Homo sapiens: one gene and its partner. The protein of the gene in region 2 interacts with the protein of the main gene of each other region in a biochemical or structural test. Each region holds a gene or a part of one and is shown on either strand. Other genes may lie near its edges.

Region 1 (3,815 bases), on a different chromosome or scaffold from region 2:
TCATGATCTCTACACTGATCCTGATGAAACTCTCTACCTACTACTTCACCTTCTCACACAAGACCTGACCCATTCACAGGCTGGGGCAGGCGTCCTTAATACCAGTAACTGGCTGGGCCAAGCTTTCTGCCCCGTTTGGGGACCAGAAGGTCTGGGGTTTCCCGAAGCTGAAGTGCAGTCCCTCCTAGGTCAGGAGGCAGCTGCTCCACCCTCTCCTCTGGTTCTATCTGTAACACCCCCACCCCCTACACACCTCTCCTGCCCTTGCTGGCACTGGCTTTCCTCCCACTCTCTCGAGATCTGGGACGGCTCCCCGAGTCAGCGCCTCATGAAGTGGACAGGAGGTGCCACTCTGGAGAGGGGATGACTAGACCAATTCCTGCCCCCCCTAACACTTCTATTCTGAGACAGTTCCCATGCCAGCAGGGTCAGTGTAACCTGACTTCCTAGACCTTCTGGCCCCCCACTCCCTCCTCACCTGGTGTCATAGTCGTTGGAGTTCCTATCAAACTTGTAGGTGGGCGGGAAGAGTAGGCGGCCCTCCTGGAACTCCCGGAGCAGCGGGTCATGTTTCTTGGCAATGCTGAGCTGCAGACAAAGTCATAGTCCCCGTCTCCCAGTAGTCTCGACCCAGTGGCCCAGTACCACACTCCATTCAAGGGATCAGCACATGCCGTCACAAATGGGGCAAGAGTCAAGCAATGCCACTCCAATTCCTCACTGCCCCAGTGACTACTCAGCAGCCCACTCCCACCAGAAAGCAGGCGAATCCTTTCGGAAACATTACCAAGGCCCAGGGGAGGCAGCTGTCTGCCGTTTCCCAGTCCTTAGACTGCAGGGACCCAACTTGGAATTCCATCTCTAGGGGAGATCACTAGCAGACATGTGTCAGAGGGGAACCTGGGGAAGCCAGGGTTCTCCAAAGGGGCACCTCACCCTCCAAGAGGGAAACGAGGCTGGGGATGGGAAAGACGACAGGGACACGATGGGCTGACGCATGATGGTACCTGGTGCAAAGCCCTTCTGGTTCCCTATTCTTCTTCTTTTTTTTTTTTTGAGATGGAGTTTTGCTTTTGTTGCCCAGGCTGGAGTGCAATGGCGCTATCTCTGCTCACTGCAACCTCTGCCTCCCGGGTTCAAGCGATTCCCCTACCTCAGCCTCCCGAGTAGCTGGGATTACAGGCACGTGCCACCACGCCCGGCGAATTTTTTTTTGTATTTTTAGTAGAGATGAGGTTTCTCCAAGTTGGTCAGGCTGGTCTCAAACCCCCGACCTCAGGTGATCCACCCACCTCGGCCTCCCAGAGTGCTGGAATTACAGGCATAAGCCACCGTGCCCGGCCCCTATTCTTCTTTTTTAAATAATTCATTTCATGCTTTGTATCTGACTCTCTATTCTAAAGCACATCCAGGGTCTGTTACCCTGGCTTTTCCATGTGAAGATCAGGCGTGGCTGCCTCACCCCTGGATGCGAAGCCCTGCTAGACAGCCTCCCCCACCAGACCTGGGCAAAAGAAAACAGCAGCGAGGGCATCTAGCAACACTCTGCACAGCTCACATGGCCCCCACCGTGGGCTCAGATCACCCCCTGGGACCCTCCCCTCACTGGATACCTGGTCCTTCTCCCACAGGCCACCGTAGCACCGATTTTTAATGGATTCCCGAACAAAGTGCAACCCAAAGTCCTCGATCCGAAAGTTCATGTCTCCAAACCAGATAATGAGGCTTCAGAAAAAAAGGAGGGCAGCCTGAGGATTTGTGATGAAGTCGGGGAAGGGAGATCACCAGGTGGCTCAGCCTGCTCAACCCAAGGGCTGCTGGGGCACAGAAAACCTGAGGGGCAAGTGAGACGCCAGGGCACGCGTGGGTCCTCTGGAACTGTTCTCATGGCTCCTAAACCACCATTCAAACCGGAGAGACCTACCAAAGAGCCTGCTCTGGCAAACACAGAGCAGGCTGTGGCCCTTCCTTCCTCTCCTTAACTGGTCACGAGGAAAGGCTGAGAAGCCCTCCTGGTGACCTCAGGAGCCACAAGGTCCTTGACCTGTTCCCAAGTGTTCAGGGTTTCTAAGCAAGACAGACGGGCTGGAGGAAGGGGACCCCAGGCAGGCAAAGCAAGGGGAGACAGCAGATGGGCACCAGGGAAGGGTCAGGGAGAGGGTGGGAGCCAGAACACTGACGACACTGGCTGGGGGATCCGTGATGGAGCAGAGGATGCTGGCTTGGGTTAGCGTGGGGCAGAGGGCGGGGAACAGTCTGCAGACCCAGGCTCACTCGTGGCGGTCAGCTGGGGCAGAGGGCGGGGAACAGTCTGCAGACCCAGGCTCACTCGTGGGGGTCAGCGTGGGGCAGAGGGCGGGGAACGGTCTGCAGACCCAGGCTCACTCGTGGCGGTCAGCGTGGGGCAGAGGGCGGGGAACGGTCTGCAGACCCAGGCTCACTCGTGGGGGTCAGCGTGGGGCAGAGGGCGGGGAACAGTCTGCAGACCCAGGCTCACTCGTGGCGGTCAGCGTGGGGCAGAGGGCGGGGAACAGTCTGCAGACCCAGGCTCACTCGTGGGGGTCAGCGTGGGGCAGAGGGCGGGGAGCGGTCTGCAGACCCAGGCTCACTCGTGGGGGTTAGTGGGGGTTAGCGTGGGGCAGAGGGCGGGGAACGGTCTGCCAGACCCAGGCTCACTCGTGGTCCAGGATGTTTGGGATGTCTCGCCCCTCACAATTCTGCATCTCCAGGATCCGGTCAAAGTGCTCCAGCCGCTGGTAATTGTTGGAAATGTGGGGAGGCAGGTGGCAGTTGATGATGCTGACATAGTAGCCATAAAGCTTCAGGCAGATGTTGACTCCACCTTTGTTCCCCTGGTAGAACAGGTCAACAGAAGAGTGGGAAGCTACTCGGGTTGGACACACCCCTCTTTCCACATCCTGGACCTGAGGGCAGACAGTCTCACTTCCTGCAGGGTCTCCTAGGGACAGTAACTAAGCTTCCCAGGGTGATCTCTCCATGCACAGAGCCCAGCTCGCCTCGCCTGGCCTCAGGGATAGCAAGCCCACTCTGAGGCAAAAGAACAAACATGCATTGGGCTGGACAGAGGACCAAGATTCCTTTCACTTCCTTTTTCTTTTGCCCAGCTCCACAGTTCCCAGCCCTTCCCAGCTCACGACTCAGACAATAGCTCAGTCCTTACCCAGTACCCAAACAGGCCAGTGGGGGTGGATTTAGTAGACAGAATCTGGATATAGGGCAAATGCTGATACTTGGCAAAGACCAGTAAGAGGATCCCCTGCATACGGACATGGGAGACCTGCAGGAGAGAGAGGGCAAAGGTCGCTCATTAAACCACACAGGCCAAGTGCATCCCTTCCAAGCTCCGTGCTAGGGACTCTAGAGAGCCCTCAGCTACATGCAGTGTCCTGCTCCAGGGTCTACGATATCCCAGTTTGAATCTCAGAGTTTCAAGCCTTTCCATTCTTCTTCTCAGCTGCCAAATGATACATTCTGGGGGCTGAGGTTTTCGATTCTGCGCCTAGGCGTGCGGGTGGCGGGAAGAGAAGATAAGCTAAGGATACTGGCTTTGAAGTTAGATCTGGGTTCAAACCCTGGCTCTGATTCTTAGTATTTGACATTGAGGCAGTTTCTCAGTGTATTTTCTCATTGATAAAGTAGGAATCCATCTCATAGATGCTGTGGGGATTATCTGAAAGCTATTATTTTTTGGTTTCAGCATTCTTTTTTTTTTGAGACGGAGTCTCGCTCTGTCGCCCAGGCTGGAGTGCAATGGCGTGGTCTCGGCTCACTGCAACCTCCACCTCCTGGGTTCA
Region 2 (3,815 bases):
ATGTATTAACTAAGTGTAATTCTATGTCATTTCTTTTGAAAATACCAAATTTCCACAGTCAACATGAGAATAACCCAAGCATTTGGAAGAGGAGACCTGCACATCTTATTAACATGACTGATGAGAATGTCAAAATGGTTTCTACGGTTGATGAGTATTATCAGAATGAGGGCATCAGAACTTTTCAATGTCTACTTACTATGTATATAATATATATGTCAACATATAATTTGACATATATAATAAGTTATATACATGTAGACACAAAAAAGTGTGTATACACACACTTTAACAAGGCATCAGGGAGTTTAGTTTATTTTTATTTTTATTTATTTTTATTTTTTTTGAGACGGAGTCTTGCTCTGTCACCCAGGCTGGAGTGCAGTGGCGTGATCTCGGCTCACTGCAAGCTCTGCCTCCGGGGTTCACGCCATTCTCCTGCCTCAGCCTCCCGAGTAGCTGGGACAACAGGCGCCCGCCACCACGCCAGGCTAATTTTGTGTGTGTGTATTTTTAGTAGAGACGGGGTTTCACTGTGCTAGCCAGGATGGCCTCCATCTCCTGACCTTGTGATCCGCCCTCCCAAAGTGCTGGGATTACAGGCGTGAGCCACCACGCCTGGCTGGTTTAGTTTATTTTTGAACTAATGACACAGAGACTATAGCTTTAAGGTTTTTTGAGTCAATCAGTAAATTTAAAACAAATTTTGTTCAGTTTGGACTTGTAGTTCATGGAAATCATCTGCTAACTACCAAATGCTTCCTCACTTTAAAAGAAAATATACCAAAGAAGAAAAAATAAACAAGTCCAAACATCTGCCACCTACCAGCAGTTTAGTTTGTTCTACTGAAAAGGCAAAAGGGATAGAGAAAAAATTTTACATCACGTTATTTTCCCTCTTCCAAAACCAAAATAAATAAATAAATAAATAACTTGTCTAAATTGAATGGGGAGCTGACACACTCCAAAAAACAGCTTAAAAAAAAGTTTACCCTCACGCTGCTTTAATTCTATAAACAGATACCTGAACAAACTGGCAAAACAAGATTCGAGAAGAGAACTCAGTAACTCGCTCTGGTGAAAGCAAACTTAGACATCTGATGAAGCCTTAAAAGAAAAACAACGGGCACACAAAAACAAAACACCTAAAACTTTCCTCAATTACTTGAAATCAAAGTGATTTTTTTTTTTTAATGAGCCCCGGGGTTATCCTGAGCTCCTAGGCTTTAGTAGAAATCCCTAGGAAACCCACCCTACTCATTTTTTCTTGAAGATATAATGCTTTTTATTCACCAAGAAACTGAAAGTCCATTTCTGAATGTTTCTTTCTCGTGTATGTTTCATTGGTTTTATTAAGCCCCGTAAGGGGAGGCTGCACCTAGCCCTCAGACTCCAACCCATCTTATCTTAACTAATCCTATTCAATTCTTACTATAAGTATCTATTAATGATGCATGGTATTAGGTGCCTCAAGAGCAGGGCTACACCAAAACTTAGCTATCAGAAGAATAAACATAAGCCAAAGTAGCTTCAAGGACAATGACATGGGGAAAAATAAAAAGGTAAGAAGCAACTGCCTTCAATTTTATCTACTGCAATATTTTATAGTAAGCTACCCAAAGATTCTTTGTCTATGACACAAAAGGAGGCTGTTAAAAATATTAAAGACTAAACTACTATAGTGTTTTCTCCCTCATGTCATCACAGAGCTCATGTTTATTCCTTTCCAAAACCAAACCTAACATTACAATAAAATTTATTTTCTCAGAATTATTCACATTCCTTGATTACTTTTCTTCTGGATTCTAAGCTTGAGATTTTTTTTTTTAACATATTTATGCTCACAACTCGACCTTTGATGATATGCCTCCTATCCTCCCAATGTATTTCTCTGGCCTGTTAACTGTCAAAGAATCACTTCCCGTCAGGAAAGAACACCTGGCCTGTGACCTATTCAATTCATTGATGGGGTAGGGAATGCTTTACAGGTGACTGGACTACACTTACCAAAAAGACTAAATAGTAATCTATCAGGAAGAGACTTTATCTATAAAATGCCCTTAGCACAATGTCTCCGGTTAAGGTTCCTGAAAAAATGTCTCATAGGTTATATAAACAGAGGTATAAAATGATGATGTTTCATAATTTAAATGCTACTACTGTAAAAGATGATCCTGCAGACCTTACTGAGAGACTTGATCTATTCTAGGCCAGAGCTGCAGGTGTAGCACAACAAAAAGGGACAGGGGGGATTACCTTAACTATCTCAGACCTTTATTTTTATCCTTGAAATTATTTAGTAATTAATTTCTGTAAAAATGAGCAACGAAAGTAACTGAGGTCAAATACATACAAAATTCTTACAAGAAGAATTTGGAGAATAACATCCCCGCAGACAATTAATACCTAACAGAAAAAAATGCCCACAAAGCAGACAAAATTATAATCAATTATTTTAACACTAGCTAAAAGAGAATACGAGAATGATACAAGATATGAACGTATAGCATGTGCCTGAGTTAGAAATAAAAGGAGAGAGTTCAGAAAATAATTCAAAATAAAAGAAAAAATAATTTCAAGAAAGGACTACAAAAGAAAGAACACAAAATGGAAAAAATGCCACATATAATGCCTTATAACAGAGGTCAGCAAACTACAACCCATACACCAAATCTGGCCCATCACCTATTCTCATAAATAAAATTTTACTGGAACACAATCACACTCATTCATTTACATATAGTCTATGGAAACTTTCACAGTATAAAAGCAAAACTGAGTAGCTATGAGAGGGACCATATGGCTACAAAGCCTAAAATATTTACTATCTGGCCATTTACAGAAAGTTTCCAACTCCTGCCTTAAGAAAAATAGAAGATGAAAGGAGAAAAAAAGTTAATAAAAAAAGAAGATATATATTTTTTAATAGGATTCAAAAGAAAGTGACAGTTATCAGGGGTTTGGGGGCAGATAGACATAGTTTAATGGGTACAAGAGCTTATTTAAGATGACAAAAAATGTTCTGGAAATGGACAATGGTGATGGCTGCATAACATGGCGAATGAACTTAATGCCACAAAACTGTACACTTAAAATGGTTAAAATGGTAAATTTTACATATATCGTATTAAAGAAATGGAGCAAGTAACAAATTTAGAAGAGGCAAAGTTTCAATATACATAAAAAGAAAAGAACGAATAATAAAAAGTATAATTTGAGAAACTTTTCTGAAATAAAAGATCTGAAACTATGTAAAGAAAAGCCATACCACATACCTGAGAAAATCTATCTAGAGAAACGAACACCAAGACATACTGTAATAGAATATCTGGTCTTTAATGGAAGAGAAAAAAAAAATCCTTTGCCCATCTAGAAAGAAAAAAAAAAGGCTAAGGGAAGGAAATTCCCATTCTCATCAGACCTTCAACATTAACAGCTCTTAGCAGGTCCTTGAAAAATAAAAGTTTAGGTATGGAAGAAATGATGGCCAGATGCAACATAGAAGAGGTAAGTAAAAACCCTATAGTTCTGAGTTTGAATTGGAAGTATCAATATTAGTTAATGAGGTAGATTAAAAGACACAGATTGTCAGAATGTCTTAAAAAGCAACACTCACATATATACTGTCTATAATAGACACACTTTAAATATAAAGGCAGATTGATTGAAAGTGAATGAATAGAAAAATGCCACACACAGCATAAGAATACTGAAGTGGATATAGTCACATCTGATAAAATGTAGCTAAAATCATAAAGATTTTCATAGGATATGTATGAGAACTTCTATGACTTGGGGCCAGATAAAAGTTCTTA

The links.
Region 1: the proteins of TNKS (region 2) and INPP5K interact in a test that uses a peptide from one of them, tested with the Homo sapiens proteins (one large-scale study listed by BioGRID and IntAct).

The regions. Positions count from the first base shown.
Region 1 is NC_000017.11:1,506,502-1,510,316, forward strand, and holds part of INPP5K (inositol polyphosphate 5-phosphatase K), read right to left. Parts: intron 3,299-3,815; coding exon 3,182-3,298; intron 2,853-3,181; coding exon 2,677-2,852; intron 1,726-2,676; coding exon 1,614-1,725; intron 589-1,613; coding exon 479-588; intron 1-478. UniProt on the Homo sapiens protein: Inositol 5-phosphatase which acts on inositol 1,4,5-trisphosphate, inositol 1,3,4,5-tetrakisphosphate, phosphatidylinositol 4,5-bisphosphate and phosphatidylinositol 3,4,5-trisphosphate.
Region 2 is NC_000008.11:9,562,388-9,566,202, reverse strand, and holds part of TNKS (poly [ADP-ribose] polymerase tankyrase-1), read right to left. Parts: intron 1-3,815.